Linked DNA regions of Homo sapiens: regions 2, 3 and 4 are each linked to region 1. The links come from fine-mapping of genetic effects on gene expression. A gene starts in region 1. Each other region holds a variant in brackets. All regions are shown on one strand. Distances are from middle to middle. Region 1 holds the start of FZD10-AS1 (FZD10 antisense RNA 1). Region 2 holds the start of LINC02419 (long intergenic non-protein coding RNA 2419). Region 3 has its middle 12 kb from the start of LINC02418. Region 4 has its middle 48 kb from the start of FZD10.

Evidence for each region. PIP is the estimated chance that this variant, and not a neighbour inherited with it, causes the effect. A credible set is the group of variants that fine-mapping cannot tell apart.
Region 2: its variant is the best candidate, but not a certain one, in a credible set for the expression of FZD10-AS1 in putamen (GTEx, PIP 0.79).
Region 3: its variant is the best candidate, but not a certain one, in a credible set for the expression of FZD10-AS1 in anterior cingulate cortex (GTEx, PIP 0.59).
Region 4: its variant is the best candidate, but not a certain one, in a credible set for the expression of FZD10-AS1 in minor salivary gland (GTEx, PIP 0.82).

What each region holds. Positions count from the first base shown.
Region 1 is chr12:130,158,324-130,165,884 of GRCh38, reverse strand. FZD10-AS1 (FZD10 antisense RNA 1) reads left to right here and starts at 4,207. Exons shown (of 4, transcript NR_033834.1): 1 at 4,207-5,228. FZD10 (frizzled class receptor 10) reads right to left here and starts at 3,421. Exons shown (of 1, transcript NM_007197.4): 1 at 145-3,421. The coding sequence starts at 2,942. The coding sequence ends at 1,197. RefSeq lists enhancers at 595-1,140, 1,226-2,221, 3,808-4,374, 4,375-4,941.
Region 2 is chr12:130,069,780-130,077,340 of GRCh38, reverse strand. LINC02419 (long intergenic non-protein coding RNA 2419) reads right to left here and starts at 6,006. Exons shown (of 2, transcript NR_146538.1): 1 at 5,703-6,006; 2 at 4,656-5,054. It overlaps LOC105370077 (a long non-coding RNA gene), which reads left to right and starts at 6,060. Exons shown (of 4, transcript XR_945550.1): 1 at 6,060-6,095. RefSeq lists an enhancer at 1,216-1,743. The variant T/C (reference allele first, on the strand shown) is at 4,027.
Region 3 is chr12:130,050,496-130,058,056 of GRCh38, reverse strand. No RefSeq gene overlaps it. Among named protein-coding and RNA genes, the nearest start is that of LINC02418, 12 kb to the right of the region's middle. The variant T/C (reference allele first, on the strand shown) is at 4,076.
Region 4 is chr12:130,207,114-130,214,674 of GRCh38, reverse strand. No RefSeq gene overlaps it. Among named protein-coding and RNA genes, the nearest start is that of FZD10, 48 kb to the right of the region's middle. The variant T/C (reference allele first, on the strand shown) is at 3,098.

The DNA of each region.
Region 1 (7,561 bases):
TCCTCTGATCTGCAATTTTATACAGATAACCAGTACTCTCTGGCTAGAAGCACAACCCCAGAATTTGCTTAAAAAGCAAAGGGAGAAAGTGTCCTGTAGTCTCTCCACACACAGAGAAGGGAAACCTCACCATGAACCAGGGACTAGCAGCAAACTAAAGAACATATTTTATTTTTAATAAAATAGTGGAGCATGAAAAATATCATATATTACAAATATACACACGCAGAAACCACTCTTTCCTGGCACTGTGAAGAGAATACACTAGACAAAGTGTCTCTGCCAACCTAGTGCTTCCTGATCTGTTTGTGGAAATCATTTGTTTAACAATAGAAAGAGTCAATAAGCCCTTTGGGTAACTTTTGAATGATCCTTCTCCCTCTTCCCCCCTCCTTTCCACAAATCAGTCCAAACGTCTATAACATTGGCTTGGTTTCCATTAAAAAGCCACAAAATGTAGCACTGAAGGGTTTCTGAGGGCTGGGCCTCTTAGTTCTTTTGTTAGGAGATTTCTTTTGTTGTCTTTATATATAGCAAAATACTTGTTTCTCTTTTTATTTTCAAGGAAAGAGAAAAAAATGTATTGCACATCGTTTGAGTTCACAAATGTGAGGTTTGATGGAGGTTTCTGTCTTGCAGAGAGACTATTGGTGAAGGCCGGAGTCTATTTTAAGCAACTCCAAATCCACTGGGGTGTGAGGCGGGCCCCGGGTCCTGTCTTTCCTCTGCAGGGATGCCGCCCAGCACTGTGGCCTTCCTGGGGGTGGGCCCTGGGGATGGCTCATTTGTTAACCCAGGGGAGGCTCTTGAATTTGCAAAGCAGTTATCTGTCCTCTTATTTGTAAATGGGTAGCAAAGCCAACTCAAATACACAGATGTATATTTAGGGAGGGCTCTAAACAAAAGTTTTCTTCTGAGGGCTGAATCAACTACTTTACCACAAATTAGTTACACAAGAGGCTACTTCACTGGAGGAGCTTCCCTTCGCTGGAAAACCAAAACAAAACAAAACCCTTTAAGTACATTTTTCCTTTCAGTGTATCACAGCATCCTGAATTTCAGGGTAAACACTTTTTTATGTATTTCTCTTTTGCTTTTATAAAAAAAAAAAAAGAAGAAGAAGAAAGAAAAACACAACCAAGAAAAGCACCACATCTTAGCTCCGGGCGCCCCTGTGCCCTTCCCTCCAGCCCTGTTCACACGCAGGTGGGCGACTGGGCAGGGATCTCATATTTCCCGTGGTGAGTTTTCTGGGGATGCTGGGCTTTTTTGTAAATCCCACCGCTGGTGATCACGCTGGCCGGTTTTCTCCGGCTCTTCTTCTTTAACCTACGGCTGCACACCTGCTGCCAGGACTGCAGAGTCTTGGAGGTCCAAATCCACATCCCGCTGGTGATCCCCACCACCAGCAGCATAAAGATCTTCACCATGAAGATCTCCACGGCGGGGATGGAGGCGGCCATCAGGCAGTCCAGCGTTTTAGTCTGGTTGTTCATTTTGCACTTGTGCTGCGCCGCCAGGATCTTCCAGTAATCCATGTTGAGGCGTTCGTAAAAGTAGCAGGCGATCACACAGGTGGCCGGCACGGTGTACAGCACAGAGAAGAGCCCGATACGCACCATGAGCTTCTCCAGCTTGTCCGTGTTCTCGCCGCCCGTCTTCATCACCCTCCGGATGTGGAACAGGGCCACGAAGCCCGAGAGGATGAAGGACGTGCCGATGACCAGGTAGCAGGCCAGGGGAATGAGCACGAAGCCGGTGAGCGCGTTGACGTCCATGCTGCCCACGTAGCAGACCCCGGTGAGCTCGTCCCCCGCCACCCTGCGCATGACCAGGATCAGGATGGTCTTCACCGCCGGGATGGCCCAGGCTGCCAGGTGGAAGTAGCTGCTGTTGGCTTCGATGGCCTCGTGGCCCCACTTCTTGCCGGCGGCCAGGAACCAGGTGAGCGTGAGGACCACCCACCACAGCGAGCTGGCCATGCCGAAGTAGTAGAGGACCAGGAAGACCAGCGTGCAGCCGGTGCTCTCCAGTCCCTCCTGGATGACATAGAGCTGGCCGCTGTCCCGGTCGCAGGCGATGCTCTCGGCGCCGGCGAAGAGGCGGATGAGGTAGCCCACGGAGTAGACGCAGTAGCACATGGAGAGGAAGATGATGGGGCGCTCGGGGTAGCGGAAGCGGGCCGGGTCGATGAGGAAGGTGAGCACGGTGAAGGCGCTGGAGAAGAAGCACAGCACCGCCCAGATGGCCAGCCAGACCACTGCGAAGCGCTTGTCCTCGCGGCTCCAGTACACGTCCACGCCGGGCGTGCAGAGCGGCGCGCACGACGCGCTCTTCTCCACGTGGTGGAACTTGCCCGGGTTGTCGCAGCCGCCGCGCCCGGGGCCCCCGTCCTTCAGCGGGTGCTCCTGCGCGCTGTGGGGCCGCTGCGGCCGGAACAGCGGCGGGAACAGGCCCGAGCCCCGGGTGGGCTCGTCCGAGCCGTTGTTGGGCGCCTCCATGCACAGGTAGTTGGGGTCGTTCTTGTTGGGGAGTTTCCGGCAGTCCAGGGAGTCGGGCCACTTGAAGTTGAACTGCTCCATAATCGGGGAGCACTTGAGCCGGGCCTGCTCGCACATGACCCGGCAGGCGGGGATGGGGGTAGAGACCTGCTCGGTGCACATCGGCGCGTACAGCGAGCACAGGAAGAAGCGGAGGTGGCCGTGGCAGCCGTACTCCACCAGCGGCGCGAACTCGTGCAACTGGATGGCTGCCTCGCGCTGGTTCTCGTGGCCCATCAGGTTGGGCATACGAGTCATGTTGTAGCCGATGTCCTTGCACATCGGGATCTCGATGGGCTGGCATTTGCCGTCGCCCGGGCGCTCCATGTCCATGGAGCTGATGGCGGCGCACGAGCCCATCACCTGCAGGACCAGCCACAGGCGGGGGCCCGGGCGCTGCATGCTGGCGTTGGACGTGTCCTCGCGGGGAGCTCCGCGCCCCTCAGCGCCGCCGCTCCCGGGCACGGGCTGCTGCTGGCCCCGGCTCTCCACCCCTGCTCGGGCCCCCGCCCATGCCCGCCCGGCCTGGCCCGAGCGCTGCGCACAGCGCCCCCGGCTCGGCTCTCCGCGCCCGGCGTCCGCCGAGTTGGGGGCCGCGGCGGAGAGCAGCAAAGTTTGCAAACAATACCGGGAAGCGAGGGAAGCCCCCGGAGCTCCCGGCGCAGCGGCCCGGCGCGAGCTCCAACTCACGGCCGCGGCAAACTTCGGCCTCTTCTTGGAGCGCCCAGGTGGCGCGTCTGGAGCGGGCTGGCGGCGCGGGCACACCGAGGCCGGCCCAGCTCGCGGCGCCCCCACAGCCCGGGCGGCTCCTCCCTCCCTGCGCCGGCCTCGGCCGGGACCAGCCGGCAGCTGTTTCGAGGTTTGCGTCCCGGGATGAGAAGACTCGCAAAAAGGCAAAGGGGGGCAGAAAAGCCGAGCGCTGACAGGCCCCGCCCCCGGGCCGCGCGCCCCGCCCCGCCGCTGCTTTGCATGAGAAAGCGCAGCGGCCCGGGGCAGCCTCCTCCCCGCCGCCCCGCCGCGGGCTCCCGGGCCCCGCGGGGGCCGATCCCCCCCGGCCTGCAGCCCAGCCTGCGGGGGGCGCAGCGCCTAGTCCCGCCCGCGTCGCCCGCCAGCCCCGGGACAGCCCGCCTGGCGCGCGGGGCTCTGCGCGCTGCGACCCTCCCCGGCAGTCCCGCCCGCCTCTCCTCGCCCTCTCTCTGCCTGGCCTCCAACTTTGCCTCTCGCTATCCTCTCCGCCGGCGCCCCCTTTCCCGGCGGTCCCCGGGATGGTCCCCGGCACCCCGAGGACGCCGAGGTTACGGGAAGTTCGGGGACTGGCGGGAGAAGGGGTTTGGGGGTGGTCCGCGGCGAGGGGCGCGGGGTGCATCTTCTCTTCCTTTTATGGTGAGTCCCGGGCGGAGGGCGCTTTCAAAGGGAGGTGGGATTTGCGTTTTATAGCCTGGGCCATAAAGTAGGCCCTTGCTTGTAAACCTGCCCGCATCTTCCTGAGGCTGGGGAGGTGCTACCAGCCCCGGGCTCCGGGCTCCGAGGAGGGATTTTCTTTGAAATTTCAAAGAGACGAGCTAAGGGGAGGGGGAGGGGCTCGAGAATCCGGATTTTAGGGCCGCTCATCCGAGGTCTCCTCTAAGAAGGCGGGAAGGGGGAGGGGCGGGAAGCGTCCCGGGACTTTGAACACCGCCTCCCACCCCGCGGGAAGTGCGGGCTTGGTTTGTACCGCGGTGACCCCCGCCCCCTCCGAAGCCGCAGAGCCGGGGCCTCGCGCCAGCAGGGCTGGAGATGCCTTCTTGGCGGCTGAGTTTATTTATTATAGGAAGTCATTCGCTCGTGGGGTATTTATGTGATTTGGCGAGTGATGTGCCCGGCCAGCGCCCTCCTTGGCTGCAGCCCCGCAGGAGGACCCGGAGTAGGGTGGGATGGAGTGGGTCGTGGGAGGAGCGCGTCAGCGCCTGCCCGGGGACCCCCAGCTCCCGCGAGGACACGGAGGCGCGCACGCCGCTCGGTTTTCCTGGAAAGTGGAGAAGGAGCGTCCTGGGCAGGTCCTCTGAGCTCATCCCCCCTCGGATTGGGGCGGGTCTGTGACGGGGTCACTTAGGACACGACGTCCCCCCGCCATTCCCTTCCCCCGCCCAGGGCGTTCGCGGTGGGCGCCCACCGCCAAGCCCCACTGTTCCCAAGGATGCGCCAGGTGCTTCCCGTAGCGTCCTGGGTTGACCCTTAAAAAAACAGCACCCCTAGGAGGTGGCCGGCCCTCTCCTCCCAGGGTCTCTCCGGGTCACGATCTTCCAAAGTTCGGAAACTCGCAGGATCGCGTGTGCAATCTCCCGCTACCTCCCGGGGGGCCGGGGAGAGGTCAGAGGAGCGAGTCCCGCGTCCACCGGCCTCGCTTGCCCCCTGCCCGTTTGAGGATAGTTCCAGGGAGCAGGGTGGAGTGTGCGGACATCTTTGGAGGCAGTGCTGGGGCTTCCCGCGTTGGCGGCGCTCCACCCGGCGTGGGGGGCGGCTGCACGGGCCCCCGCGGTGGGGACGCTGCGCACGGGGCAAGGTCTCCCTAGGAAGCGCCCGGGAAGGAGATGGGGCCCGCCAGGAACCCCCCTCACTGACCAGCTTTCTGCACGCCGTGCAGGAGGGGGCCACTTCCTCGGAGAGTATTGGCTTTTAATTAAAACAAGCCCTACAATTTTTACATCGGTAAGAAACTTGGGGAAATCTCACCTTTCCACTCATTCATTCATCCGTTCAACAGACATTTGAGCGCCCAGAATCCCAGAATTAATAGGCAGGTTCAGGCACCCACCCCTGGGTCGCTGTCCCTGGGTGTCCTGGGTCTCACTAGGAGGTGCTGGAGGAAGTCGGGGTGAGGGAGAAAGTGAAAAAGAAGGTAGAAACTCCGGGCAGTTAGAACACCACCTTCAACTGTGTTATTTCCCAAGTGAAAAGTTGCATGATTTTATTTTTGAAAGACTGCCATTTTTATTATAGTGTTTTTTTTTTTGTTGTTGTTGTTTTTTGTCTAGTGAGTAATTTTTCAGGACCTTTAAATTAAAATTAATTCAGCGGAAATCACTTGGCTTTTCTAGAATTTTCCTGGCAAAGGTCCTTCCTGGGCCCTATTTTCCTTCTTTTCCTTTTTGTGTCTCTCCCTCAGCAACTATTAGAAATATTTAGTGCAAGAGTGAGAGCCAAACGCCGGGAGCTGGGTGTGAGCTATTTGAGAAAGTGCCTCCTAATTGATCTTTTCTGTGCTGTTTTAATTCAGCCACGTTCAGGCCCATTATTTTAGCTATAACCACTTCAGATTGCCTTTTTCTCTCGTTTTTTATAAAAATGTCTGCAGAAGTGCTTCGCCCTGTCCAGCTGAGATGGAAACCAACAAATAGACTTTATTATAGAGAAATGAGGGTTCTGAGAAATCAGCAACTGGAAGATAAGTCTGTAACTAATAAATGAAAAGGCTCTTTTGATGGCCCCAGCTGAAAAGATATTTTATTTTATTTTTTTTCCTGTGTGTGGGATTTGAGATGTGTGAGTCTAAGGAGCAGCCGGGGTCCCCCGCTGCTCAGCCCTGGCTGGCAACCGACCCCCCTCTGGCAAATGTTATGGAGAATTGGGAGGAATTTTATGGCTGTCTTTCCCTCAGCTCTTTTTTCTTTTGTCTTCTTTGAAGAATGACTTTAGACATTTTATTTACATATTTAACCATGGATGAAAGACGGAAAAGAAAGCTTTGGAGCCGTCGTGGGAATAGTGATATGTTTAAATTAATGGAAATCTTATTAGGCTTCTAAAATTTTGAGCAAAGATTTTTAATGAAACTTTATAATTAAACATGATTTCACATAACGTGCAGAGACAAGGAATATGTTTTTACCCCCAACCACCTAAAAATGTCTGTCTATCGGAAAGCTATCAGTAAACATTATCCGCCTTCAGGTTCTTGCAAACGTTCACCAGGGAAAGTATGAGGTTTTTGAGAGAGAATATTTCAGGAGTCAGGCAGTGTTTTGAACAAGAACTAAATATTTTTTGGAGGTGGAGGGGAATTGAAAGAGAGGCCCAGTTTCATTCCATTTAAACTCACAAAGTCAAAAGTATAAAAGTACTTTGACACGGATATTGCTAAAAATCAAAGTTGTATCTTTTCTTATTATGTAATAGTCAATGGAAATTATAAGCACTGTGCGAGGTTTTCTGAAATGGGATTAGAGAAAACCCAAATAATCTCTTTAAGATAAAAAAGTACTGAGTCTTTCAGCAACAGAAAGAAATTAAACCATAAGCTTAGCATGTTACAAGCTAATTGCAAGAGTAAACTGGTGGCATAGGAAGAAAGCTCATAAACAGAAGTAAAATCGTGCTGGTGAATGTTGAGATAAAAAGTGGTTCAGGCTGTCGCAACGCCTTTCAGTAGCTGCTGCTTGAATCACCTCTCTTGGTACATTCAAGTGTGAGGATCCACGTAAGTGATTCTTGTGTTTCTTCTCTTGTCTTCTCGTGTCGTCAATGTTTGTATTTAGTCCGGGACATTTCCAATTCTACCTTCAAGTATGAGAATGAAAACTGATCTATTTACCAATAATTGCTTCACATGCAGGGAAGTCTGATGTGAATAGACCTTGTTTTCTCTGACCTCATCTAGTATCAAGTTTCTGCAGAAACTTATCAGATATAAAACATGCACAAAAAATTATGTTTTCTGATCAAGTAGGCATGCTCCCCGTGGCGTGCCCCCATCTTTTTCTCCAGGGAAAATACCTTTAGTGATCTGAAGTGATACTTAGCAAAGAAAACACAGTTTGTACCACCAGAAAGGCCATGCAAGTCGCAGCGAATTCAACAGGCGCAAAAGTTTTAATTCTGCCTAAAAACACTGGCTGTGAGATGTGGAGGTTTGGGGGAAGGTGAGAAATGAACCCCGAAGCACCCCCATCCTAAAGTGGATGAGTGGGGTGTCCAGTGTGGCTCCAGCACAATTTAGGCAGCTATTTTAAGGCCACTTCCCTTGAAATGTGGTTTGAAATATT
Region 2 (7,561 bases), 89 kb after region 1:
TGAAACTGGCATCTACCATGACCACCACCATCCTTATCACTATCACTTTCATTTTGTGTATTTTTATTTTGCTTTATATAGATCTAGCTCCACATTAAATAAAGCCCAATGGTGGACGGGGGAGTGTTCCTAAAGAGTGGGTGTTTCCTGGACCCATTTACTCAAGGAGAAGGACAGATGGATAAGCGTTTACAAAACAAACAGCCTACAGGAAGTCTGGAAACTGTTTCAAAAACAGTCTATAACAGCAACCAAAAAAAAAAAATGTGTAGATGGTGATGTAATCTCTCTGGTAAAAGAGGAAAAGCAAACGGATATTGTCTGCGTGTAGAGCCGTGGGGCCACTAGGGCAGGATTTCCATTCTTAGAGGGCTCCTGGGACTGCCTTTGTCTGGCACTGGCCAGGGCTCTCACACCTCATCAGGGTTTGCAAAGACAACTTCTCACTTCCTTGAGACGTGCTTTTCATGGGACACACACTATAATGTGTATTAAGTTACACGTGCAAAAACAAGCACTTATGCATGCTTTAGGGGAAAAAAGACTAGAAGGAAATACACCAAACTGTGAGTGGTGATTATTTCTAGGATGAATACATATTACTTTTATAATCGGGAACAAAACACAATAAAGTACTTTTAAAGCAGATCTACTTTACCAGAGATGGAAAGTATTACAAAAGAAAATGCAGGACATTCACAGAAAGGTCCTAGGGAACCTTCCAATAGGTTCTCGTTCTTCACTTTGCTGACTGATGATCTTAGGAACTGTTTTAAAATTATGAAAATGTGACTTCATCCTGCATTTACTCCACAGCATCTGGAGAAGGAATATTGTAGTCTCATTTTGTTAAATTTTGTTAGTAAATAGGATGACAGTGTATCCTTTAAATTTTTTTTTAAAGCTTGGGTGTCCTTCCCTGAGATACCTGCATGTGAGCCCTGGCTCTGCCACCTCCTGCTCTGTGACCATGAGCAAGTCACTTAACCTCTCTAGGACTCAGTGTCCTCATCTGGGAAATGGGTGCAATGGCAGGGCCGAGCTCATAGGATCATGGGGAGGAATGGATGAGCTACTGCACACTATAACTCTTCTTTCCTGTGACATCCCTTAAACCGTCTCAGTTCTGTCTTCCAGAAGTTGCTCCTACTACCCTGTGGCCCTGGATGATCCCAGCAGAGTCTGCACCCCCTGTCTTTTGTCTTTTGGATCGATCAGGAACTCCTGTCATCTTTTCCTGTAAACAGATCCCCGTTGAACCGAAGTCTCCCTCCACCTCTGTCTCCCCACCTCAGACTCATCCTCCTCTCTAGACCATACCCCCTTGCTGGTCTCCCTGCTCTCATTCTTGCCCTGAAAGCCAGTTCTCTGCTGGGAGCAATTCCTCTAAAACTTAGAACAGGTCCTGCTCCCTCTGCTCCTCCACCATTCCCAACCACGTTTACAACACAATTGAAGTCCCAGCGGGGGCCTGTGAGGTCCTCATCTGCCCCTGGGAGGCACCTAGCTGCTCCAGCCCTAACCCCCCACCCACCAGGCTTTTGCTTGTAGGCCTCCTCTGTGGCAAGGCTTTCCCTGGCCATCCCACCTGAAACACATTCTGTCACTTTCTGTCCCTTTACTCAACGCCCTTCCTTCACAGGATCCACTGCGACTATAGCTCCACGTGGGTGTTTCTGTCCCAGATCTCCTGGTTACTGTCTCTTATTACTTGTTCTTATTTCATTGCTCATAGGAGTTGCATGGTGCGGTTTTGTGGGTGAATGAAAGACATACATTGACTTGTAAGCAACTGTTCCAGAGCAACAGACTCTGGACGTCCCAGCCCATCTGCAACTATTCGACTTGGCCCACAAGCTTTCTGAGGCCAGGCTGCACACGTCATCTGACCCTCCCTTCGGAGGAGCAAGCAAGGATGCAGGAGAATTTGTGGCCCCTAGGAATATCTCTGACGGTGTCTTCATTCACATGCACACTAAAGGGAGCACACCAGCTCCTCCAGACTAGCAGGCCCTGGTGACCTAGTTTCTGTCTTGAGGCTCCCAGACTTCAGGAATATTTATGCTGCTGTGATTGCATTGCTTCCCCCAGTCTTGAGTGCCCTCTGAGCATGTGAGTCCACTGGGAGGTTTGTGTTCACATTACTAAGTGTTCATAGCAATGTGAGGATGACAAGGAAATGACTAGAAACTGCTAAAAGCACAGGGAGGAGGGAAAACACTATGGCCCCTGATCTCCATGGTGTCTCATGTCAAGTGGAGATGTGCACATCGTGTGACCTCGCTGAGTTTCCGCAGGTGCCTCCCGCCTCGGGGGTGGAGGGGGAGCCCTTCACCAGCTCACTAGCCCCACAGGCCAATGTGGAGCCCCATTTTCTAAAGAGATCTCTGGTGGCTTTAAAATATAATGCATTATTTGATGTTCCACCCTTCAAGAGGTGAAAACTAATTCCTCCCCCTTGAGTGTGGGCCAGACTCAGTGACTCACTCCTAAGAAATAAAGCATGGCAGAAGCAATGGTGTGTGACTTCTGTGACTAGGTCATGGAAGTCAGGGTAGTCTCCTTCTTGCTCTCTCTGGGGATCACTCCCTCTGGGAGAAGTCAGGGGCCATGTCACGAGGACATGCAAGCGTTCAGAGCCCAGTGAGCACACCATCTTGGAAGCAGATCCCCCTTCTCCTCCTTCAGTGGCGGTAGCCCATCCTTGGCCAACCTCAGAGAGACCCTAAACCAGAACCCCTGAGCTACGCTGCTCCCAAACTCCTGACCCACAGAAATAAGCAGTGAATGTTTGTTGTTTAAGATGCTCAGTTTGGGAGGTAATTTGTGACCCAGCAGTAGACAACCCGTACCAGATCTCTGCTTCCTGGGACCCCCGTGTTCATGACTGCTTGACAGTTTCCTTTGCTGCACTCACCACCTCTCTGCCCTTTTGGGATTCCGTTGCCATAAAATGGAGACAATAACATCTATAGGGTCGTGGTGAGAAACAGCTTTAGAATAAAATATTTAAAGCCATCAGTGCAACGGTCAGCACATAGAAAGTAGCCGAAATTGGAGTTGTTTTCATTCCTGTGTAGATCCCCATGCCTGTCGGACAACATCATTCGTGCCGGTTATGACAGGCCTGACGGGCATGCACCCCACAGCCGCCTTCTTAACTGGCAAAAGGAGAGCCACTTTGCACCCCTCAGCAGTGCCCATAGGGCTCTCACACTGCCTCCATCCTCTAGTGCCCAGACACAGGCCCCTACAGCCACCTCTGGGAAGGGCATCCTGTTGCTTTCGCCAAACCTTCTGGGCACCAATGCAAAACTCTCATCTTCATTGCTTAAGTTTCTCCTAAAACTCCTTAAGGAAATGAATTCATTCTGGGCTCTGATGCTTTCTCAGGCCTGCCAGGACACACCTACATTCAAATGCAGGCTCTTGCTTACAGCTGATGATGCATGCGTTGATGACAAGTGTGCACACCCGTGCCAATGTGTACTGGCAAGATGGCCAGAGCTCTTACAGGAACATAAATCATTGAGTAAAATATTGATTTGGTACTTTCTTTCAGTTACTTTTTTTTTTTTTTGAGAAAGACCCTACTCTGTCACCCAGGCTGGAGTGCAGTGGCATGATCTAGGCTCACTGCAACCCCCGCCTCCCAGGTTCAAGCAATTCCCCTGCCTGGGCCTCCTGAGTAGCTGGGATTACAGGCACCTGCCACCATACCTAGCTAATTTTTGCATTTTTAGTAGAGATGAGGTTTCCCATGTTGGCCAGGCTGGTCTTGAACTCCTGACCTCAGGTGATCCACCCGAAAATCCAAGTTATCCCTTTCCCTTGCCTGCAACATTTGCTCTCACTTGGGACTGCAACGCTTAACAGATTAAGACTGTCTTCTTTAAGGGTGTGTGTCGAGGGTGTTTGGTTTTCACTCATTTCCCAACACTAAGCTGAGGTTCTATCATTTGGAAGTTTCTGTACTTTCGGCTCATTCACGAGCATGTACCTGGGACAGAGCCGATGTGTGGTGTC[T/C]GTTAAAAGTAGGACGGTGTCTGTTAAAAGTAGGACAGTGTTTGCCACTGTCATGCCTCTCCCCGGGAAAGCTGGCCCCATCTTCACAGTGCGTGCACGCGCGTGACCACATTTGATCCTCAGGGCTACACTCTGAGATCACTGGGCCACGTGTCAGGTTTACACTCTTTTTAGAGATAAGAAAAATACAGATACAGAGGGCTTAAGTGGCTTTCTACAGTCACCAAGCCAGTGGTTGCAAATCTGGGTTTGAACTCAGTTTCTGACTTCAATTTGGGGCCTTTTGTGCCAACTGGGTTTAGACCAATGCCTACGTGATGTTTGCTCTGTGATGCTGTCATTCTGATTGAGAGTGGAACCGCTTAAAATAACACTGAATATGCTAACACGAGGCACTGGGGCACAGTGTAGACAGCTGGGCCCTGGAGCCAAGCCCCTCGGCTTCAAAACCCGGCTCTGTCGTGGACCAGCAGGACCACCTGAGCAAGGTGCTGCACTCACTTTGCCTCGGTTTCCACATCTGTGAAATGCAGGAGCTGATAGCATCTGCCTCACAGGGTTGTTGTGTGGAGTCAGTGAGCTCACCCACGTGCCGTGTATACAGTACCTGCTCAAGGATAAACACTCAGTTCATATTAACTCTTTATTAAGGTCTCATTTTTGAAAGCCTTGAGACCACTGGCTGCATTTTCCAGCTTTTCTCTAGTACCTGGTGTATGTAAGTACCAAGGGTTGTCTGCCTAGACTTGTAGGCAACATGATTGTAAAAAAGAGGGTTGTTTACCATCTGGAAATAGCATCGCTTGGATTGCAATCATATGCCTTGAGGAAGCCACCTTCTTGTAGTAGAAAAGTCAAAAGCCCTATTATTTTCTTTATATTCAAATTTCGCTCTTAAAAATCATTTAGCTTCGTAATAAAAAAGCAATTAAGAGAAAAACAAACAACCATGTTCCTTATTGTTAACAATCCTGTATCACGCTCTTAAAAATGTGTTAAGAGGGCAGATCTTATGGTCAGTGTTCTTTCTATGAAACAAAACAAAAACCAAATTACTAAGGTCTTCTTCTCCATCAGAAACCTTAGATTTCAGCTGTGGTTATAGTCTTGGCTAACTAAATATGGACGATCCTTTGGAAACATCTTTTCTCCCATGCTTGTTTTATGTTGCTACGGTTTGGCTGTGTCCCCACCCAAATCTCATCTTGAATTTTAGCTCTCATTATTCCCATGTGTTGTGGGAGGGACCTGGTGGGAGATAATTGGATAATGGGGGTGGTCTCCCCCAAACTATTCTCGAGGTAGTGGATAAATCTCATGAGATCTGATGGTTTCATAAGGGAAAGCCCCTTTTGCTTGATTCTCATTCTCTCTCTTGCTGCCACCATGTAAGACATGGCTTTCGCCTTCCGCCATGATTGTGAGGCCTCCCCAGCCACATGGAACTGTGAGTTGATTAAACCTTTTTCTTTATAAATTACCCAGTCTCGGGTATGTCTTTCCAGGCAGCATGAAAACAGATTAATACAACTTGTATTTGTAAGGCCCATTTTCCACAACTGCAGTTTAGTGGTCCCAGAACATAATCTTGTGATTGGGAACTGGGGTTCATTTCACTTGTTGGGCTTATCTGCCTGCAGGGCAGGAATAAGGGAGAAGCTACTAAGTGGACTTACTGCTCAGCTGCAGCCCTCCGCAAACAATCTCCCTCCTATTTTCTCCCGTGTACTTCCTGCGGGGGGTATTCAATGGTTCAAGAGAAGAAACTGCAGTCCTCATTTATCAGCGTCCTATTTCCTGTGACTTAGCCCAAATGTCTTTATGGCCCAAGTGAAAACATAATTCTCAAGTATAAAGAGAAAAATGTAAGGGAGAAAAGCTGACGGTTTACTGTGGATGGCTACCTGCATGACAGGTGGAATAGCTGTAGCTGCACCCAGAAGACAACTGACTTTCACCCTCAACAGCCCCTGCTGCCTTTCAGAACCCTCTCTGTGTGTGATGTAATAATGGGGCCCTGCCAGGTGTGGTGGCTCATGCCTGTAATCCCAGCACTTTGGGATGCCAAGGTGGGTGGATTATTTGAGATCAGGAGTTCAAGACCAGCCTGGCCAACATGGTGAAACCCCATCGCTATTAAAAAATACAAAAATTAACCAGGTGTGGTGTCTCACACCTGTAATCCCAGCACTTTGGGAGGCCGAGGCAGGCAGATCATGAGGTCAGGAGATCGAGACCATCCTGGTTAACATGGCGCCTGTAATCCCAGCTACTCGGGAGGCTGAGGCAGGAGAATCGCTTGAACACGGGAGGCAGAGGTTGCAGGGAACCGAGATTACGCCACTGCACTCCAGCCTGGGCGACAGAGCGAGCCTCCGTCTCAAAAAAATAAACAAATAATGGAGTCCACATGACTTTCAGAAGTGACAGGGCAGTGACCAGCAAGTGAGGCTCAGGGAAATCCAACTTTTATTTAGTTAGCCTGATATTTTTCCAGTTCATCAAATATGCATTCCCATGGAACTTGTGGGAGTTTTCATTCTCATGCCCAGTTGGCTGGAGGAACGGCCAGGGTAGGTGGCAGGAGGTGAGGCATGTTTGTGGCAGGGCCGGGCTTGAGCAAAGCTGAGGTCTGCCCTGAGCTCACTGCGAAGACTGATCTGCGTGGGTCTGCAGGTGAGTTAGGGGCCTGTGACCCGGCTGCCCAGCAGGCTCATCCTGATTCTACTGAAACCCGAGTCTGGGGCGCAGCCAGTCCGCGGGAGCACGAGGCAGGGCGTCTGGATGGTGAGCTGCATTTTTTGCTTCCTGCCTTCCTGACCATGGCAATCACGTGGAGCATGAGGGAGCCCGGGAGGTCGGACTGCAGTCCAGATTAGCTCGCGGTGAAGCTGCTGACGGGCAGCAATCAGACGCTGTTGCCAGGCTCTCAGCCCTCAGTCCTCCGGGCTAAGGGAATCCAGGTCACGTTCTGACTCGGGGAGCCTGTGCTTGCGGGAGGTGAGGCCTTAACCCAGCCTCGGCTGGGGAAGAATTGAGTTAGTTAAGTCAATTATGGTTATTCACTTCCCTTTGCCGGTGATTGGCTTTGGAATGGGCACGTGACATCATTCTGACCAATGAGAGGACGTCTGCTGTGAGGCAGGCTCTCCTGAGAAAGAACTCTGCTGCACTTAAAGGGGCCAGTGATGGACATTCTACCTTTGGACCTGTGGGTGCTGCTGGTTGAGGTGATGATACTTGGGGGTGCTGCAGCCACCTTGCCACGTTGAGTAGACAAAGCTGAGGTCAAGGCCAACCTGCCAAGGATGCCAAGAGATGATGGGAAGAACCAGTTCCCAAGTGGTCACTGACCCACTGAGGTTATCAACCTGGGTTTGTCTATTTCTGGACTTTTGGTAATATGAGCTAATAAATATCCAAGTGGGTAAGCCTTTTTGAGCTGGGCGTTTTTTCTCATGGAGGCAGCTTCCTGTTATAGGGGGCAGTGAAGAAGTCAGAGTTCATGGCTGAAAGCACAGGATGCAGACTTAGA
Region 3 (7,561 bases), 110 kb after region 1:
ATTCCTCAGAAAGAACTTCACCAGGTGGTTCCTGAATGCAGAATAGGTGCTCTTCAAAGATCTACTTCCTGGGCTACAGGCTTTCTGCCAGCAGAAGTTCTTTTTAGATGTTTCTTCATTCAGAAAATACATGTATCAGTTTCCCAGGCCTGCTGCAACAACTGTTCACAAACTGGATGGGTGAAAACAGCTAAAATTTATTTTTGCACAGTTCAAGAGGCCCGAAGTTAGACATGGAGGTGTTGGCAGCCCTGGTTCCCTCTGGAAAAGCATTCACCTCTCCCCGGCTTCTGGTGTCTGCGGACAGTGCTTGGCATTCTTGGGCCGAGGCAAGCATCCCTCCCGCCTCGGCTCTGTCTTCACAGTGCCTCCCCATTGCACCCCTGGGTCTCACGTCCTCCTTCCTTTTCTTTTATAAAGACACCAATCACTGGATTTAGGGCCCATCCTCAATTCAAGATAATCCTATTTCCAAATCTATAATTGGATTACACCTGCAAAGACCTATTTCTAAATAAGGTCGCTTCCTTGGACATATCTTTTTGGGAGACACTCCTCCACCCCTCCCAATGTGCCGTGTCTCCTGTCTCAGCAGCTGCGAGGCATTTGGCCAGGTGCTAGGGATATCATCATGAGTGAAACAGACGAGGTCTTGGTCCTCATGAAGTCAACAGACCAGTGGACAAGCCCGGCGCGACGGTGAATAACACGCATCACGAGGAATCGTGTGTAAATAGCATCCCGTGGTAGTCATCTGGGCTGCTGGAGATGCCTTCCTTGAAAAAGTTCCCTTGAAGAAGGTCCTTAATATGGACTTTGTTGCCTTTAAGCCAAGCCTCACTGTATTCATTTATTCTCGCATTGCTATAAAGAATTATCGGAGACTGAGTAACTTATAAAGGAAAAAGGTTTACTGGACTCACCGTTCTGCAGGCTGTACAGGAAGCACGGCTGGGGAGGCCTCAGGAAACTTACAATCATGGCAGAAGGCGAAGGGGAGGCAGGCACATCTGACATGATGGCAGGAGAGAGACAGAGCGAGAGAGAGCGCTCAAAGGGGAGGTGCTATGCACTTTTAAACAACTGGTACTCACCATCATGTGAACACCAAGGGGAAAATCCGCCCCCCATGATCCAATTATCTCCTACCAGGTCCCTCCCCAACACTGGGGATTATCAATCAACATGAGATTTGGGTGAGGACACAGACCCAAACCACATCACTCACCTTTGATGGGGAATCACAGAACAGTGGGCTGGATGGCTTTGGACCAGCCTGACAAGCTCCCCCGAGGGCCCAGGCATCTTACTGCCATGCAGGAGTCTTGGATCTGCTATTTTCTGGCTGCGTGACCTCCAGCAACTTACTTAATCCTTCTAAACCTCAGTTGAACTGTCCATAAAATGGGAGGATAATACAACCTGCCTGGCAGTGTGGATGCCCCCTAGGGCTTCCTTAGCCCAGTGCCTGGCCCCTAGTAAGTGCTCAAGAAACAGAAGTGGTTTTATGGTCAGAAAGACAAGTGTCCTTGTCAGAGCCTGGGATCTTCTCCAGGCTTCTTAGTTATATGTCTGAGGATGACAGTGCTCTTTTCTTCTCTTTCTCCTTTTCCTTTGTAACCTTTAAATTGTATGCCAGATGCGGTGGCTCACACCTGTAATCCCAGCACTTTGGGAGGCCTAGCCGGGAGGGATCACCTGAGGTCAGGAGATTGAGACCATCCTGGCTAACATGGTGAAATCCTGTCTCTACTAAAAATACAAAAAATTAGCCGGGCGTGGTAGCAGGCGCCTGTAGTCCCAGCTACTCGGGAGGCTGAGGCAGGAGAATTGCTTGAACTTGGGAGGCAGAGGTTGCAGTGAGCCGAGATCGTGCCACTGCACTCCAGCCTGGGCAACAGAGTGAGACTCTGTCTCAAAAAAAAAAAAAAAAAAAAAAAAAGTATGCCTTGCAGGACTGTAGGGGAGCATTTGGCCCCTTCTTTTCTGGCGGGTCCCACAACCTCTTGAGTCTGCGCCTCCTTACCCACCCTCACTGCTCTCACTGCTGCACCCTCCATGCCGGGAACAGTGAACAGATTCCAGTCCCCCTGCACTGTCGAGGACTCAAGCAGCCCCTGAGCAGCTGGGCAGGTGGCAGGGCTACTGAGCCAGTCCAGCCGGCTCCACAGCCTGGCTACCCTTGAGCAGCTCTCAGACCTTAGGAAGTGACTTGACCACTCAGTGCCTCAGTTTCCCCATCTGCAAAAGGAGGCTGATCATAATGGTGCTCACTGCTGGGACTGGTGAGAGAATGAGAGGGGCCGATGCATGGAGACTCCCATGGGTACGTCCTGGCAGGTAGGGGCGCTCAGGATCGGCTACCTTTGCTTTCCCAGCTCAGGATCTGCTCTGAAGTGAGTGGTTGGTTGTCTGTGTGTGGTTGTGTGTGTGGTTGTGGTTGTGGGTGGTGGTGGTGTGTGTGGGGTTGTGTGTGGTTGTGGTGATGTGTATGTGGCTGTGTGTGGTTGTGGGTGGTGGTGGTGTGTGTGGGGTTGTGTGTGGTTGTGGTGATGTGTATGTGGCTGTGTGTGGTTGTGGTTGTCTGCATGTGTGTGGTTGTGTGTGTTTGTGGCTGTTGTGTGTGTGACTGTGTGTATGGTTGTGTGTGTGGTTCTGGTGGTGTGTTGTGTTTTGTTGTGTGTGTGGTTGGGTGTGTGGCTGTGGCAGTTTGTGTGTGGTTTTTTTTGGTTGTGGTGGTGTGTGTGTGGTTGTGTGTGTGGATGTGGTGGTGTGTATGTTTGGTTGTGTGTGTGGATGTGTGTGGTTGTATCTGTGTTTTTTTGTGATTGTGGTGGTGTGTGTGGTGTGTGTTTTGGTTGTGTGTGTGGTTGTGGTGGTGTGTGTGCAGTGTTTTGTTTGGTTGTGGTGTGTGTGTGTGGTTGTGGTTGGGTGTGTGTGTTTGTGTGTGTTTGTGGTGGTGTGTGTTTGTGGTGGTGTGTGGTGTGCGGCTTTGTGGGGTTTGTGTGTGTGGTTGTGGTATGGTGGTGTGTGGTTGTGTGTGTAGTTGTGTTTGTGGTTGTGTGTGGTTGTGTATGTTCTTGTGTGTGGTTGTATGTGTATGTGGTTGTGTGTGGTTGTGGTTGTGTGTGTGGTTGTGGTTTTGTGTGTGGTGTGTTTATATGTGTGCGGTTGTGTGTGTGGTCATTTGTGTATGCGTGTGGTTGTGCGTGTGGTTGTGTGTGTTTGTGGTTGCGGTGGTGTATGTGTGGTGTGTGTGTGGTGGTGGTGGTGGTGTGGGTGTGTGTGTGTCTCCTGCATGTGACATTTCCCCACAGGCCTCACGAGTTGGAGTCCTGGGTGTCCACACGTGTGTATGCCTGTACGGAGTCCACACACAGACTGCAGTGTGATTTATGCAGAAGTTGTAAATTAGCAGTTCTTAGGCCAAACCTGGTCCATAGATGTTTTCTGTTTCCCCAGAATTTGAGTCTTTACATTTTTTTTTAAATCTAGATTTCCAACACCAATGAAAAGTCATATGTCCCAGCATACGTTCACCAAATGGCGACATTCAGCGGAACGGAGCAGCGGCTTCCCCTTTTCAGATGAGGCCTGCAGTCCCAATTTGCCCCAGTCTCCACTACTCCCTATTGTACACACCTGGTCTCACTGAATCATGTACCTGTTTCAACCCAGCTGACACGCATACTGGTTTCCAGCCTTTTCAAGGTTTGGGCCACTTTGCACTACGTGAATGTGGGTTCCCAGGAATCCTCACAATGCCCAGTGCTGAGCAGGTACCACCAGGGTCCTCATGAAGTGGAAAACAGCACTGGAGTGGGTAGCTCCCCACCTCTCCAGGTAGCACTTGACACCGTGGCCTCTGAACTGTTCAGCAGTTCTAAATTTGAGCTAAATTTTTCTTATGATCAAGCTGAAGAGGGTGAATTCCAGGCTGGCCATTGACAAATTAGTTAGTAAACGCTTTGCTCCGGCAAGAGGCAGCTGTCTGCCTTGAAGCACCAGTGTGATGGCCAGGGATGAAGGCCGCCTCTGTCTCGGGGACTGTCAGCCCGGAAGCCGGGGACTGGGC[T/C]CCCTGCCGGAGCTCTGGGGTGCAGTTGTAGCCCACTCACAGCTCCCGACCCCTCTTCTGTGGCAGGAGAAAGGGCAGCAGGCCAAGAAAGCATTCTTCTCTACCTCCTTAATGAAAACCCTGGGCCGGCTGTCTTTCACCCAGGGGCCAGGACCAGCCTGCCTGTGTTTGAATTAGAGGCTGCCACGCCCTTTCGACAGCAGGAGGCCAGGCGGCTGTGCTTCCTCCCTGTTCTGTGTGGCTCACAAAGCCACCTCCAACTCTCCTCCTGAGCCTGGGGAATGACAGACTGTGGCAGGTGGCTGATAAATGGAGAAATGCAGAGGAAAGTGGGGCGCTAGATCCTCAGCAGGTGCAGCCCCGGGAGCCTGCCGCGTGCACACGCTCCTGCCTCAAGCTTGCCCTTCTCTGAGCATCTCAGTTTGTGAAACAGGATCCTGCAGTCCACACGTGGGCTGCCTGTCTCCTGCCACCGCTGGCATTCTTGGGGTGCAGATAAGAACATTTTCCTATCCTCATGTCTTTAAGCATCTACAGGGATCCCTCCTGTGCCCAGGGCTCGCCCTAGCCACAGGATTGCCAGAGAAAATATAAAAATACAGTTAAATTTGAAATCCAGATAAACAATGAAACAATTTTTAGTATAAGTATGCCTCAAATATTTTATAGGACATACTTATACTAAAATATCATTTATTGCTTATCTGAAATTCATATTAACATGAAGTCCTGAATTATTATTATTATTATTATTATTATTATTATTATTATTTTGAGACAGAGTCTCACTCTATCCCCCAGGCTGGAGTGCAATGGTGTGATCTTGGCTCACTGCAACCTCCACCTCCCAGGTCCAAGAGATTCTCCCACCTCAGCCTCCTGAGTAGCTGGGATTACAGGCACCCACCACCACGCTCGTCTAATTTTTGTATTTTTAGTAGAGATGGGGTTTCACCACGTTGGCCAGGCTGGTTTCGAACTCCTGATCCCAGGTGATCCACCCACCTCTGCCTCCCAAAGTGCTGGGATTACAGGCATGAGCCACCATGCCCGGCCCTGAATTTTTATTTGCTATGGCAAGCCCGCCTTGTCCCATGAATGGGGGAAGGGTGTTGGAGCCCATTGCCTGGGTTTGAATCCCAGCTTGGCCACCGACAGGCTGTGTGACCCTGGGCAAGTTACTCAACCTCTCTGTGACCCAATTTCTACATCTGTCTATTGAGATAATAGTGGTGCCCACCTAACAGGAGTGTTGACAGGGAGCAGTGACTGTGGTGGCGCGTGGGAAAGTCCCCACACGGACCAGCCCTGGCTCAGCCTTGGTCGTTATTACCCAGTGTTGTTCAACAATGTCCACGCACAGAGGGTCCTCGCGACCCTGCTAATGCTAGTCCTCAACCTCAGCACTTGGCTTTCTCCACTCCAGCTGCCCTGAGCTTCCTTCAAGCACCAGAAAGGGCCACCTTCCCCTCCGCACCTGTACCTGTCCCATGCCGCCCCCTCTGTCTGGATGGTTATTTCTCTCCGTCATCTGATCAATTCTCTCTTATCTCACATTTAAGATCCAAGGTCATGTTCCCCACTCAGTCAGCAAATATTCATTGAGCACCTATTACAGGCAGGCTAGGGGGCAGCCAACGACGGCTCTGGGACTGAACCCAGATCTAGTCTGCCTGCGAATAACTATTTTTACATTTTCAAATAATTAGAAAAAATCAAAAGAAGACTACTTCGTGACACATGAAACTCAGAGGAAAGTCAACTTTCAGTGTCTACAAATAAGGCTTTATGGGAACACGGCTGCGCTCCCTCACCGAGATATCATCTGTGGCTGCTGTGTGCCCTGGCGGCAGGGTGGAATGCTTGCCACAGAGACCGCAGGGTCTGCAAAGGTTGAAGTATCTGTTACCTAACCAGGGACAGAGAATGCAGAGAATGCATATGCCGACCCTGATCTAGACGCCGGGCATAGGGTGATTAAAGCAAACAGAGAAAAGCAACCCCAAAACCCACACAAAACTCTTTGGTCTCAGAGAAGCAATATTTGGGTGGGAAAAGAGACAGGGGTGTGTGCGAGAGAGAAACAGAGAGAGAGAGAGAGAGAGGCGCGAGTCAGATGATTCAGAAGCTTGGGGCTGTGCTATCAGGAGGATGGGTGTTAACTGTTCTGGTGGGGACAAGTGTGGAAGGAGATGGTGTGTGGAGGAAGACTAAGAGTTTGTTTGGGGACTTGAAGATTTTGAGAGGCCTCTCGGGCATGCCCATGGCGATACTGATGGGGCAGGTGTGCAGGTGCATCTGAAGAAATAACTTTAGAGTCATCAGTTTATAGATGGTCTTGACCCGGGGCATGAGTCTAAAGAGAGAAAATCCTTTCCTGACCTCAAGCCTAAGTCACGTTCCCCTGGAAGATAACAGATGTTCGCTATGCTTCTCTGATGAACAGACTCTGGTTTTTAATTGTTTCAGACCATGGGTTCTGTAGCTTGACTGCCTGGATTCAAATCTCAGCTTGATGACTGAAAAGCGGTGTGGCTTTGAGCAAGTGGCTCACCCTCTCTGTGCCTCTGTCTTCATCTGCAAACTGGGAAGAATAATGGTACTGCCTGATGGGCTTGCTTCCACGATTTAGTAAGCACATCTGTGTAAAGTGCTTTGAACAGTATCTGAAGCATAATCAGTAGCATATAAAGATGCTATCTACCATGATTATTCCGTAATGAGACTCTGAGCTCCCTGAGGACAGGATCTGGTCTCGCCTTCTCATCACTGCATCTCCCACTGCCCAGCACAGTCTCTGCACACACATGGCCGTGGGATCATTGCATCAATGGCTTTGGAAGGACAGAGGGGCAGTTGTCCCCTCCTCTAGGGAGTGACCTGAGTGTGAAGGGGCTGTGGAGGGGAGGGGCGGCCAGGGCTGTAGGAGGAAGGCTACCCAGAGTCCACCGAGGGAACAACGTGCTCAGGGGACAGAGAGGAGAGGTGGGCAGGGCACAGCAGCCCTTGGGCCAGGAGGGCAGGTTGCGGCTGAGCCACGGAAGATCCTCAACATCGAAGTATGGAGACTGATCTTTATTTTTTGAGAAGCAGGGAGTTACAAATTTGTCTTGGCAGGGACAGAGCATCTTGGAGGTTGAGAGGGTGAGGCCAATTCAATTTGGGGAACTCCTAGTATATTAATAAAACAAACAACTGCCAAGACAGGGTTCTGAAAATCTGGGGCTTATTTAAATGTTAACCCTGCCTGGGTGTGGCTCTATTATAAACCTCAAAGAGAGGCAGGCAGGCAGATAGAGTGAGTGACCCGTTAGTGGTTGTGAGATCATTTTAGACTTCAAACCAGAGTTTCTTATCTGAACCATAACATGTAGAAAATGATCTAAGCAAATACTTTCTCAATTCTCACAAAAATGGATTATAACTAGTACCCCTCTAGGTGCCTAGGATAAAGGTTGATGATTGATATACAATGAATGGCTGAGA
Region 4 (7,561 bases), 49 kb before region 1:
AGTCTCTGATTAGATTAGATCATGCTTAGTCTCACACCAATTCCTTCTGCCCCTATGTGTGCACTTGCTATCTCTACCACCTCACTTCTTTTTTATTTACTAAAAGTGGGATTAGGAGCACGATGCACAGCACTACACAAAGCTCTGTGAACGCACACATTGATCTGAGATATTGGTCGACACACACATGTGAAGCTCCCACATGAAATATCAAAAATAACCCCCTTAACTGTTAATCAGAAAACACAAGCAGGTCTTAATTAGAGGGTGATGATTTGCTTTATGGACTCAAAAGTCTCAGAGAGGGTAGATGGCATTTATGTCTTATTGTAGATTTCTAGACCCTTAGATAAAATCTGCAAGAAGCAAGGTGGAGGCACATCTTTGCATTTTCATAGCTCAAAACAATTGAGCTTAAATACAGTCCATTTTTCCACTTAGCACCTTTATGCAACTCCATGAATTCTGGCAAATTCTCCAGACAAGATGATCATAACAGAGAAGAAACCACATTTGTCCTTTTTTAGCATGTGTGCTGGCAGAACCAGACATGTTGGAGAAACACAGTCCAAGGGGGTGAGCATTGTTAGGGAGAGAGGGGATCAAAGGGCTGAGATGGCCCATGCATGCCTTGGATGACAGAGAAAGCTGTTTTATGATTGGAAGTTAAAAAGCCCCATAAGATTCCAGGTGCCTGGAAACAGGAGATGACAGAATCCTGCGGGAGGGAGGCCATTGCTGCTGGCGTCTGTGCCTCCACAGATGCTTTAAAGAGGTAGGAGATAAGACCAGAGTTGTATCTGGAGCACATAACTTCCCATTTAACTCTACTTCAGGACTGGAGTAGCTGAGTGGGGTCATGTGTCATCCGAATTAAAGGTTATTGAGCTGGAGCCAGTGGAGGGAGTGCCAAAGGAGAATATGACCCATGCTCCCCCCAGCCCTTCTCCAAGCAGGTCTTCAAGGTTTGCAGAGTGAAGAGAAGAGCTGCTTCACCTGGGAGGATGTGGGAGCTGGACAACTCCACTCATCAAGATTAATAGAACCTCCTTATCCCCAATACAGTATCTTACAGAAGATAGCAATCTATTTCCCTCTCACGTGAAAGCAACCTGCAGGTGGGCAGCTCAGGTTAATATGGCATGTGGAGAGTTTCAGGGATCCGTGGACTTTGTGGCTTTCATGTTTGCTATTTCTAGGGTGTGGAGCTTGACTTCCTAGTCCAAGAAGGCTGCAGGACCTCCAGCCCTCTCTTCTGCATTCCATGTATTCCAAGCACGAGGAAGAGGCAAGGAAGAGGAGGTCAGGAGCCAGCAAAGCTGCCTTCTAAGACAGCTTCATGAAAGCAGCCTCATGTTTTCCACTTTTATCTCAATGACCGGAACATAGTCACACAGATACACCAAGCTCCAGTGAGAATGGGGAGTGGACTGTTCTCTTCTAGACAGCCAGGCACTGTCAAGGAACTGTCTCCAAGCTGCTGACCAACAACAGTGAGAGATCTATTGATGAAACTCCTTAGGCAGCTCTAGGAGTCTTTGACAACTCAGAGTCCTCAGTTTCCATATACACACATGGAGTTATACATAGCAAATCTTATATTTGTTGTTGATGTATGTTAATGAAAGAAAAAGACTTAAAATATTGCCACACAATTACTAAATAGTATTTGGGAGGAAGCTTCTCTTTGTGGAGTTATTCCACTGAATGGATGAGGAAACAAGAGAACGGAGCATTAACATTTGGCAAGCCTTCTTAAAATAATGGATCCAGGCATTGAACACAGGTCTGTTAACATAACAAAATGAAAGACAATCAAGCATCGTATGCCTCCTTGTAAGACAACACCTCACGTAGATAGATTTCCTGTTTAAAAAAATCGAGTTTCATGAACCCCACTGCTCCAGCTTCCAATCCACAAAAAAACACAGAAGACAGAGAAAAATATTACACAACGCCCCACAAGGACATGATTAGCAAAATCGAAACTAGGAAACAGGACAAAAGAAACTGGTTTCTTCCACAAATGTTGAAAAAAAAAAATGGCTGGGAACTCCAGAGATGAAAACAAAAGATAGTACAGCCAGTCAGCAGGTGTGGAGCTGTTCAGCGCCTGGTTCAAACCGACAAGTAGAACCTAAAATCAAAGAGACTTGGTTTGACCCCATATGACTTTTAGAAGACAACCGGAAATTTGAATACTGAGTGGATTTTTGTTGATATTAAGGAATTACTATTTTAGGATAATGGCATCATGGTTATATTAAAGAAAGTGTCCTTATCTGTTAGAGAAACATACTGAAATATTTATGAATAAAATATGATTTCTAGGATTTGCTTCAAGATAATAGAGGAGTGGGAAAGTGGATAGAGGTATAGATGAAGTCAGATTGGCTGTGAACTGACAGTCTTAAAGCTAAGTGACTCACTATTCTCTCTCGCTCTCTCTGAAGCTGGGAGTTCATTATACTACTATATTCACTTGTGTAAGTTAAAATATTCCATAATAGGCTGGGTGCAGCGGCTCACGTCTGTAATCTCAGCACTTTGGGAAGCCAACATGGAAGGATTGCTTGAGGTCAGGGGTTTGAGACCAGTCTGGGCAACACAATGAGGCCTTGTCTCTACAAAAAATTTAAAAATTAGCTGGGCCTGGTAGTGCACCTGTAGTCCCACCTACTCTGGAGGGTGAGGTGGGAGGATCACCTGATCCTTGGTGGTGGAGGCTACAGTGAGTCTTAATTGTGCCACTGCATTCTAGTCAGGGTGACTGAGCAAGGCCCTATCTCAAATAAAATAAAATAAATAAAATAAAATATTCCACAATAAATAAAAATATAACAAAGTAGAATGATTTATAATCCTTTGGGCATATACCCAGTAATGGGATTGCTAGGTAAAATGGTATTTCTGGTTCTAGATCCTTGAGGAATCGCCAAACTGTCTTCCACAATGGTTGAACTAATTTACACTCCCACCAGTAGTGTAAAAGTGTTCCTATTTCTCCACAGCCTCACCAGCATCTGTTGTTTCCTGACTTTTTAATAATCTCCATTCTAACCAGCACGAGATGGTATCTCATTGTGGTATGCACACG[T/C]ATGTTTATTGGAGCACTATTTACAATAGCAAAGACTTGGAACCAACCCAAATGCCCATCAATGATAGACTGGAGAAAGAAAATATGGTACATATACACCATGGAATACTATGCAGCCGTAAAAAAGAATGAGTTAATGTCCTTTGCAGGGATATGGATGAAGCTGGAAGCCATCATTCTCAGCAAACTATCACAAGGACAGAAAACCAAACACCGCATGTTCTCACTCATAAGTAAGAGTTGAACAATGAGAACACATGGACACAGAGAGGGAACGTCACACACTGGGGCCTGTCGGCGGGTGGGGGGCAAGGGGAGGGAGAGCATTAGGACAAATACTAAATACAGGCAGGGCTTGAAACCTAGATGACAGGTTGATGGGTGCAGCAAATCATCATGGCACATGTATACCTATGTAACAAACATGCGCATTCTGCACATGTATCCCAGAACTTAAAGTAAAATGAAAAAATAAACTCAAGAATTAAAAAAAAAAAAAAAAAACAAAGTGCGAGACAAAAACTATGAGTTCTTCCAAACGAGAAGCTCTAAGCCAACTTTCTCAGGTATTAGGTAAGGCTCTAGCCAAATCTGTAGCCACCCTAGGTAGCCCCTGATGGACTACCCCGGGCCGCCGCTGTGGACTTGAGAGGTCAAGCTGAAGACTTGTGGTTATTGCCGCTATTCAAGGAGAGAAGAGCCTGGGTCCAGCCAGGTTCATTGGCAAGTGTTTCTTCCACATTCACAGGAAAAACTGGGCAAGATAAGATGTTCCAAATACAAGCCCTGAGAAGTGATCGAGCTATAGAAATAATCTCAGAAAAATGATCTCACTCATACTGGGAGAGTGGCAGGGAAGGAGGCAGGGGCCACATACAAAAGAGACTATAGTTTCTTCTAACAGGCAGTCAACAGATAATGTCTAAAACTAATACTATATCATGATGTAATGCTGAAAACACCTTTTTAAAATGGAAATGGACCAGAGAGAGCTGCAACAATCCAGCATGCTTTCTCCTGGGAAAGCAAACATGGAGTCGTGGGGCCGTATGAGAGAGGAAAAGGGATGCTTCTTAAATTATAAGCACTGGATACTCTTAATTATGTGTGTATTTCACACATATTTAAACTTTAAGATGAAGGTTAAAAAAAAAAAAAACAAGCAATAGCAATAACAACAAAAACCAGAATGTGGCCCAACCTGTAATCAGGGGAAAATTCCTGGACTGAACATCCTCTTATTATTAATAAAGTGGCTAAAAACAAATGAATTAAATATTTAACTGAAGAAGCTAAGAAAAAATAAGAAATTAATGAATAAAATAGGTGAAATGGAAAACAAATTAGTTGTATAGAAAAAAATTAAGGAATAAAAAACAGAATTGATAAAGTAAAGAACCATAGCTTTGAATAGATTAAGATAGATAAATCTCTTGGCAAACTTGAGCGAGAGCAAGAGTGAGAACAAGAGAGAGAGAAAAACTAAATTGTTCATGATAGAAATAAGACAAAATACTTAGTGATATGGCAGAGATTTATAAAACTTAGAGAATGCCATGTATACCCTCATACCAAGAGGTATGAAGGTATGAATGAATCCTTATCTGGATGAAAGGAATAATTACCAGAGTTAAATAAAGAAGTAGAAAATCTGGATAATAATTATTTAAAAATGAGAAGGATGTCAAAAATTTACCATCCGACCCTCTAGGAACAGATAAATCGTCTATGATTTAAACTATCCTGAAGCCTAGAAAAAAACACAGAAAATTTTCTAGTATATTCTACAAGACTGATAAAATTCTGACACCAAAATCTAATTAACAGTATTATATGTATATTTAAAACATACAACTATAAACCCAAACTAATATTTTTAGAAATGTATCTAACAAATGGAGAAAAAACCCTTCCCTCATAAATGAACTTGTTTACCATTAAGGGTTTGTTTTTTCAACTGTTGAACTTCCCAGAACCTTTAATATATTAAGATACAGCTTTAAAATTTTTGTGTGCGTAAGAATCCCTGGTAAAGCTTGTTAAAATGCAGGTTTCCAAACCCAAATCACAGATTTTTATTGAATAAAGCCTGAATATCTGAATTTAACAGATACCTAGGTAATTTGGATTCAGGTGGTAAAAACACTGCACTAACGAGCATTGTAAATCTCCAAGAGGGGCATTCATTACACAGATGCTTCCCAGAGTGGTTTAATAGAATTGCCTTTGTCAGAGCTCCAATTAAACTTCCAGAATTACGGTTCTTGACAAACAGGTTAAGAAATACAGATTGAGTTTAATCACTTTTGCAAATAAGAATAATAAAACTCAAAATTTACTATCAACAAATTGAATCCATCGGTGTATTAAAGAATAATATACCATGACTAAACTATTTTTCTTCCAATAATAAAAGGATGAAATAACATCGGAAAACTTTTAAAAATCAATTAGTATGTGCATTAGTTATCTACCATTGCATAACAAATCACCTCAAACCTTAGCAGCTTAACACAATAGATATGTATTTAATCACAGTTTCCGTTATGTACCCAGAGCAACTTAGGTGGCTGTAGCTTAGAGTGCCTTTCAAGAAGTTGCAGTCAAGAAGTTGATGGGGCTGCAGTCATCTGAAGGCTTAAATGGGGCAGAAGACTGGCTTCCAAGATGGCAGCCTTGGAAGGCACCCATGGCTGTTGGCTGGAGGCCTCAGTTCCTGGCCATGTGGACCTTTTAGGACTCTTTGAGCATCCTCACAACATGGCAGCTGATTCTCCCATAGCAAGTAATTCGAGATATTTTATGGCCTAGCTCTGGAATTCACACTCTGTTATTCCACATCGTCTATTGATTACACAGGTCAGCCCTATACGATGAGGGAGGGGACTTCATGGTGTGTGAATGCCAGGATTTGAGAATTATTGGGCATTTTATTGAAGGCTAACTACTACAATAGGTTGAAGGATAAAAATTATGATTCAATCATTAAATGGGAAAAATTCTGAGGAAACTTGATAATTATTACTGCTTTCCCTTGGCTATTGACAGAAGGAAGTTCTAACGGTAAAAGATATATAACAATAACTAGTAAACATTAGATAAATTGGTGAAACATGAAAGGCAGTGCTATCTGCTGGTACCAGGGTTTTTCAACATTGTTCTGGGCTTGCTAGTTAATTCAATGAGGTAAGGAAGAAAGTAATAGTTAAAAACAGTGAAAAGAAGAAATAAAATTCTTACCCATGTATTTGATCTCTCTCTGAATGAAATTATAAGACTATACTGAAAAGGATAAAAGAAAACTCAATAGCGTGAAGTCGTAAATTAATAAATTTAGGGTATATCCAATCAATATTTTAATGAAGCATTTATTAACATGTCATATTTATTAAAGGTTACTTGAAGAGAAAAATGCAAGAGAATAGCTAAAAATATGTTCAAATAGGAAGTATTATGAGGAAGACATATTTTAGCAGATATCAAAAACACCCAAACAATAAATATATTGAGAGATGCCCACACAGGTCACTCAACAGCACAAGAGAGAGTCTGCAATCAGGACAATAAACTTCTGTCTAGACCTCTTACTTTTGGAAGTGATTCTGTACCTAACCCCAGATTTACAGCTTTCTATGCCTAAGGATGTATGGGCAGAGTAGTTTGTAATAACAAAAATCAAAACAACCTTGGTGTTCACTGAATGAAATTGAAACATGGATCTATTAAAAAGAATGTAGTTGATTTGGCATATTCTGCCCTGGAAAAACAGTCACAGTATATTGTTAACTTTTAAAGCAAGTTGCAGAAAAATATGCATATTATGTTGACTTTTATTTAAATAAACAAAGGAAAAATTCTGCAGGGATATAAAGAAATGTGTTAGTGTGGGAAGAAATCTTTCACTTTCTACCCCATATAAATTTGTCCAAAAATGTGTAAACCTTGTTTTATTTCTCTGAACTCTGAAAATTGTTTCAAGGTAAGTTTCAGGTATGAATTTTGTTTGGTCTTTTATATAGAACCTGGTTCCCTTACTGACTTGGGGGCTGTATTAGGCTGGTCTCACACTGCTCATAAAGACATACTCGAGACTGGGTAATTTATAAAGAAAAAACGTTTAATGGGCTCACAGTTCCACATGGCTGGGGAGGCCTCACAATCATGGCAGAAGACGAATGAGGAGCAAAGTCACATCTTACATGGCAGCAGGCAAGAGAGCTTGTGCAGGGGAACTCCCATAGAACCATCAGATCTGAGACTTATTCACTACCACGAGAACAGTATGGGGGAAACCACCCCCATGATTCACTTATCTCCACCTGGTCCTGCCCTTGACACATGGGGATTTTTACAATTCAAAGTGAGATTTGGGTGGGGACACAGCCAAACCATATCAGGGGCCCTCTGTGATTTCTTCCTTAGTTTTCTTTTTTGAGAACAAGGAATCCCAAGGTGTCCCTTCTC